Linked DNA regions of Homo sapiens: region 2 is reported to be linked to region 1. The links are microRNA targets in miRTarBase. Many come from high-throughput screens and were not tested one by one. Region 1 holds a microRNA gene; the other region holds the end of a gene's coding sequence.

Region 1 (3,224 bases):
GTTAGCCGAGCCAAGATCGCACCACTGCACTGCAGCCTGGCCGACAGAGCGAGACTCCATCTCAAAAAAAAAGGGCCTTCATCCCATTAACAAGGGAGAAGCCCTCATGGCCCAATCACATTTTTTTTTTTTTTTTAAGATGAGAGTTTCGCTCTTGTTGCCCAGGCTGGAGTGCAATGGCACGATCTCGGCTCACTGCAACCTCCGCCTCCCGGGTTCAAGCGATTATCTTGCCTCAGCCTCCTGAGTAGCTGGGATTACAGGTGCCTGCCACCACGCCCAGCTAATGTTTGTATTTTTAGTAGAGACAGGATGTCGCCATGTTGGCCAGGCTGGTCTTGAACTCCTGACCTTGGGTGATCCACCCGCCTTGGTCTCTCAAAGTGCTGGGATTACAGGTGTGAGCCACCGCGCCTGGCCAGGCCCAATCAATTCCTAAAGGCCCTACCTTTTTTTTTTTTTTTTTTTTTGAGACGGAGTCTCACTCTGTCGCCAGGCTGGAGTGCAGTGACGTGATCTCAGCTCACTGCAACCTCCGCGTCCCGGGTTCAAGTGATCCTCCTGCCTCAGCCTCCCGAGTAGCTGAGACTACAGGTGTGTGGCACCATGCCCAGCTATTTTTTTTTTGAGATGGAGTTTTGCTCTTGGTGCCCAGGCTGGAGTGCAATGGCGTGATCTCAGCTCACCACAACCTCCGTCTCCTGGGTTCAAGCGATCCTCCTGCCTCAGCCTCCTGAGTAGCTGGGATTATAGGCATGTGCCACCATGCCCGGCTAATTTTGCATTTTTAGTAGAGACGGGGTTTCTCCATGTTGGTTAGGCTGGTCCCGAACTCCCGACCTCAGGTGATCCACCCGCCTCGGCCTCCCAAGTAGCTGGGATTACAGGTATGAGCCACTGCGCCTGGTAATTTTTTGTATTTTTAGTAGAGACGGGGTTTCACCATGTTGGCCAGGATGGTCTCGATCTCTTGACCTTGTGATTCGCCCACCTTGGCCTCCCAAAGTGCTGGGATTACACGTGTGAGCCACTGCACCCAGCCCCGACCTCTTAATACTATCATACTGGCCACACCTGAATTTTGGAGGGGACACAATCAAACCATAGCACCACCTTTACTGACTTGTGTCTAACTTAAATTCTTCTTGTACATTGTAAAGTACTTAATAATCCAATTGGCGTGAGTTACTTTATTCTTATTTCACCACATCCATTATACTTGGGAGGCTAGGTGACTGCTTAGCCCAGTGAAATACACACTGTCAGAACTCTTTATTCCTCATCTAATGATAATATTCTGATTGGGCTTGGTTTCCTCCCAGGGTGGACAGTGTTTCCCAGTTATGTTAGTCCCCATTTCAGGCCCCTGCTGGTGACTGAACAAGACCATTGGCTGATTTGCTCTCAAGTCAACCACTGGTGATTCCTGTAAAAGTACATGGCAACAATGGAAATACCATTGCTGTCTCAGAGGAAGGGATGGACTTGTGCCTGTGGGTCTTCCTATGACCCTACTGTTCAGCCATGTGTTCTCACTGGGCCCAAATGTCAATTGCCTTTGTGGGAACCAAACCCCAGACCTCACAAATGGACAATTAATGGAGCTCAGTCAATTAAGTAACTGGGCCTTTTTGCTGGTCCTGGCCATGCTTTCAGCCATTCAAAGAACATCATTAAATTTAAAATAACATAGCAATTCTTAGTATTAAAGTCTACAACCTTGAGAGATATCAGAGCATGGGTTGAAAATAGCATGCAACAAGACCTCGCTCTCCCTTCTCTTCCCCCTCAATCTACAATAAGGTTTTCTGGAGCCACCCATAATTCAAGGTGGTGGCAGGGACCTCATTACTCTCATTTCCTGCCACAAAAATCCCCCATGGTGAGAGACAGGACATTGTACAGTCTTCTCCACTCAGGCAACAGATTTCTTCCGCTTCTTCCAATCCAGCTCCTATGACAATTGGCTGGGGTGGCTGAGGCTGTGGGGCTGGAGTCAAATCCAAAATGAAAGACCAGCACCAATTCCTCCTACCACCCAAGCCCAGGTCCTGAGGATGCAGCTTCATACACCACGGCTTGTGTGAAGACTCTGGGGACTTTTGACATAGTTGTTCGGTGGCAGGCAGGCTAAGCAATCCTCTGTGTATATTTGATAGCACCCTCTTTCCCATCACAGCGCATGTAACACAAAACACTCACATGCAAGCTCCTCTCACAGGCATGCCAATTCAGGCACACTAGCTGTGAGGCCACTCCTCTCTTTCCCACTCAAAAAAAACCCATAGTGGATTAGCCGGGCATGGTGGTGCATGCCTGTGGTCCCAGCTACTCGGGAGGCTGAGGCAGGAGGATTAGTTGAACCCAGGAGGTGGAGGCTACAGTGAGCTGAAATTGATTGCATCACTGTACTCCAGCCTGGGCGACAGAGTGAGAGCCTGTCTCAAAAAAAAAACAAAGCACAGTAGGATGCAAGGGAGTAAGTGGTGAGTGATTTATGATAGGGATAATCCTGAATCCACTGGAATTCCCTGCTCCTCTCCTCTCCTCCCCTCCCCTCCCTTCCTCCATTCCTTCCTTCCTTCCTTCCACTGGAATTCCCTCCCTCCCTCCTCCCTTCCTTCCTTCCTTTTTATTTCTTTCTCTCTTTCTCTCTTTATTTACTTTCTTTTTCTTTCCTTTCCTTTCTCTCTCTCTTTTTTTTTTTTTGTGAGACAGGGTGTTGCTCTGTCACCCAGCCTGCAGTAGTGCAGTGGCTCGATCAGGGTTCACCGCAGCCTCAACTTCCCAGGCTCAAGTAATCTTCCCACTTTAGGCCACCCACCGACCAAGTAGCTGAGACTACAGGTGTGCGCCACAGCACCAGTTAATTTTTTCTTTTTTGAGATGGAGTTTTGCTCTGGTTGCCCAGGCTGGAGTGCAAAGGCGAGATCTCAGCTCACTGCAACCTCTGCCTCCTGGGTTCAAGCGATTCTCCTGCCTCAGCCTCCTGAGTAGCTGGGATTACAGGCATGCGCCACCATGCCTGGCTAATTTTGTCTTTTTACTAGAGACGGGGTTTCTCCATGTTGGTCAGGCTGGTCTCGAACTCTTGATCTGAGGTGATCCACCTGCCTTGGCCCCCGAAAGTGTTGGAATTACAGGCGTTAGCCACCGCGCCCGGCCACTAGTTAATTTTTTTTAAATTTCAGTAGAGATGAGGTCTCACTATGTTGTTCAGCCTC
Region 2 (3,097 bases), not on the chromosome of region 1:
AGGACCAGGAGTGGTTCCAGTGGCCATGATACCAGGGATGAGGGGCCACAAACCCTTCTGGTTAACTCTCCCATTGGGTAGGGCTCAACTCTCTCTGGACACATTAATTTCTCTACAATCCTTCCTTGGCTCGCGGGGCTCATACAGCTCAAACAGGAGGAAAAGCATCTCTGGGAGCAGGCAGCCTCATGTGTCTGATTCGCTGCTCAATTCCAGGCAAAACTACAAGAATTACTCCATGGAGTCAAGGACACACTTTCGAATCCAGGCAGCCACACTCCAAGCCAAGTCTTCCCTAGAGAACAGCAGCAGATCCATGGTCTCATCAGTGTCCTTGTAGCTTTGTGCAGCAGTTCCGGGCTGGAAGACAGAGACAGCTGGACAGAGCTCCTGAAAACATTTCAAAATACCCCCTCCCCCTGCCCTGCCCTGCCTTTGGGGTCCACCGGCACTCCAGTTGGATGGCACAACATAGTGTATCCGTGCAGAAGCCGAGCTGGCATTTTCACCAGTGTAGCCAAGGGCCTTTGCCAAGGGCAGAGCAGGTGGAGCCCTCTGCCTGCCCTATCACACATACGGGTACTTGCTTTTCACTGTGATGTTTAAGAGAATGTATGAACAGTTTACATTTTCCTTAGAAATACATTGATGGGATCACAGTTGGCTTTAAAAACCAACAACAATCAACCACCTGTAAGTCTTTGTCTTCACCTATTATCATCTGGAGGTAAATCTCTTTATATGATGATGCCAAAGGGCAAATTGCTTTTCAAATTCAGCAAGTTCTCAGCTTGTGTGACGGAAGGTCCTTCAGAGGACCTGAGGAATGCCTGGGAGAGGCTAAGCCTCAGGCTTCAATGCTTCTGGGGTTGGGCATGAGGATGTACACAGACACCCACTACCTTACTACTCACACTTCATTTCACTCCTTTTGTAAATTTCCAATTTAAAAATCAAGCACGTCTTTTTAGTGAGATAAAATCTGAGCTCTTCTGTAGAAAAATCAATCTCTACCAGTAGAAAATGCCAGGGCTTGATGGAAGAGCTGTGTAGCCCTTTCTATGCCAAAGCCAGGAAATTTGGGGGGCAGGAGGAGGTTCTCAGAATCCAGTCTGTATCTTTGCTGTATGCCAAACTGAAACCACTGGGAATAATTTATGAAACATAAAAATCTTCTGTACTTCACTCCAAGGTACATTTGCTTACTGACAGCATTTTTGTTAAAACTGTTATTCTTGACCTGTTGTGTATGCGTTAGATTCTTCAGTTAAGAGAAAAGAGATATTTAAGTGATAAAATTTATGCCCTTAAGGGATCGTGCATCATGTATTTCAATAAAATATGTGTTGCATGAATCCTTAGGCCAGGCAGAAAGTCTTGATCAGAAGCCACACGGCCTATGTATGTTTTATTTAGACCACACAATGTTTTAAACTTTTTGAATAAGTTACCAGCATTCACAAATGGGGAGATTTTACAGATGAATCTGGTTCCTGGCCTGTAATTTAAAAACAAACAAACAAAAATGGCAACATTGAGCCTCATTCCCATGAGGCAACAATCAGCTAGAGCTAAGTCCAGGCTACTTTAAACACTTCTGTTACCTTTCTGGCCCCTAAAAGCATCTGAATTTGCAACCTCTAGGATTGTTAAAGTGAGAACTCAGGTTCAATGACCAACACCAGGTTTTACTCTTCACTTTCTGATGTCAGCACACTTCAACCTAACCATTTCCCCGTAGGGAAAATCATGCACACAGTAAAAATATTCATCTGTGAAAACGTTACTCCCCAAATGCATGAATGCAGTTTCTACGAGAGAAGAACCAGTTAAACTTTCCAATCTTCTAGGATTGCTGTATTTAACAAACACGAGTATCTGCCAAGGGTCTGGGTTAATATATAAAGATCCAGTCGGTCGGGCACGATGGCTCACGCCTGTAATCCCAGCACTTTGGGAGGTTGAGGTGGGTGGATCATGAGGTCAGGAGATCGAGACCATCCTGACCAATATGGTGAAACCTCGTCTCTACTAAAAATTAAAAAATTAGCTGGGCGTGGTGGCGCATGCCTGTAGTCCCAGCTACTTGGGCAGGAGAATCGCTTGAACCCAGTAGGCAGAGGTTGCAGTGAGCTGAGATCGTGTCATTGTACTCCAGCCTGGCGACAGAGGGAGACTCCATCTCAAAAAAAAAAAAAAAAGATCCAGTTGACCAGCCTCCTATGGGTGACATCGAATGAAGTAATGGGTTTTAGGCAAAATATATTATTAGGAAAAAAAGCAAAAAAACCCTCACCCAAGATTATCTTTTCCAATGAGTATTGTCAGAGTAGAAATGCTATGAAAAAAAAATCTCTCATATTATTAGAATGAAACAAAAGAATGTCCTCCATAGAGAGTAATCCCTTTGCAAGCTATCTCTTCTCCAAAGCCTGGATGCTGGGAGACCAACCTGTTTCTAGGCTCCTGGACAGGACAGGGTGAGCGGGTAGAGACAGGCTGCAGGAGGACAGGCCTCCATGGCTTCCCCACATGTTGGAATGTTGCCTGCTGCTGTATCAAAGCAGCACTACTCACAGGACACCAAACACATACTTTGGAAAATTGCAGTTTACAAAAAAACTCATTTCGGGTGCTTTTTTTTTTTTTTTTTTTTTTGAGACAGTCTCGCTATGTCACCAGGCTGGAGTGCAGTGGCGCGATCTCAGCTCACTGCAACCTCTGCCTCCCGGGTTCAAGCAATTCTCCTGCCTCAGCCTCCTGAGTAGCTGGGATTACAGGCATGCGCCACCATGCCCAGCTAATTTTTGTATTTTTAGTAGAGATGGGGTTTCACCATGTTGGCCAGGATGGTCTCGATCTCCTGACCTCGTGATCCACCTGCCTTGGCCTTCCAAAGTGCTGGGATTACAGGCATGAGCCACCACGCCCGGCCACGGGTGCTTTCATTTTAAAATTTGGTCAAGATGATTTCCTCGTCAACATTTGCTGTTTATTTCCTCCTGGGCTTTGTTAATTAATCCTATGTCACTTTTACCTCTGCTGCCCTGATAAGATAAATCAGTGGGTTTTGCCTCCTGTACCCCACCTGCAAATT

What was found. The annotated mature microRNA hsa-miR-766-3p reads ACUCCAGCCCCACAGCCUCAGC and lies in region 1 at 1,976-1,997, opposite strand. An mRNA with a match to its seed (bases 2 to 7 or 8) in the 3' UTR can be bound and repressed. Matches are read on the target gene's strand: a 7mer-m8 pairs with bases 2 to 8, a 7mer-A1 pairs with bases 2 to 7 and ends in A, and an 8mer does both.
Region 2: the mRNA of TTC39A is a reported target of hsa-miR-766-3p. The part of its 3' UTR that is shown has no 7-base or 8-base seed match.

The regions. Positions count from the first base shown.
Region 1 is chrX:119,644,788-119,648,011 of GRCh38, forward strand. MIR766 (microRNA 766) reads right to left here and starts at 2,061; the gene lies at 1,951-2,061. The region is part of intron 5 of SEPTIN6 (septin 6); the gene reads right to left. RefSeq lists an enhancer at 3,115-3,224.
Region 2 is chr1:51,285,400-51,288,496 of GRCh38, reverse strand. TTC39A (tetratricopeptide repeat domain 39A) reads left to right here. Exons shown (of 18, transcript NM_001297663.2): 18 at 217-1,239. The coding sequence ends at 340. Among named protein-coding and RNA genes, the nearest start is that of TTC39A-AS1, 43 kb to the left of the region's middle.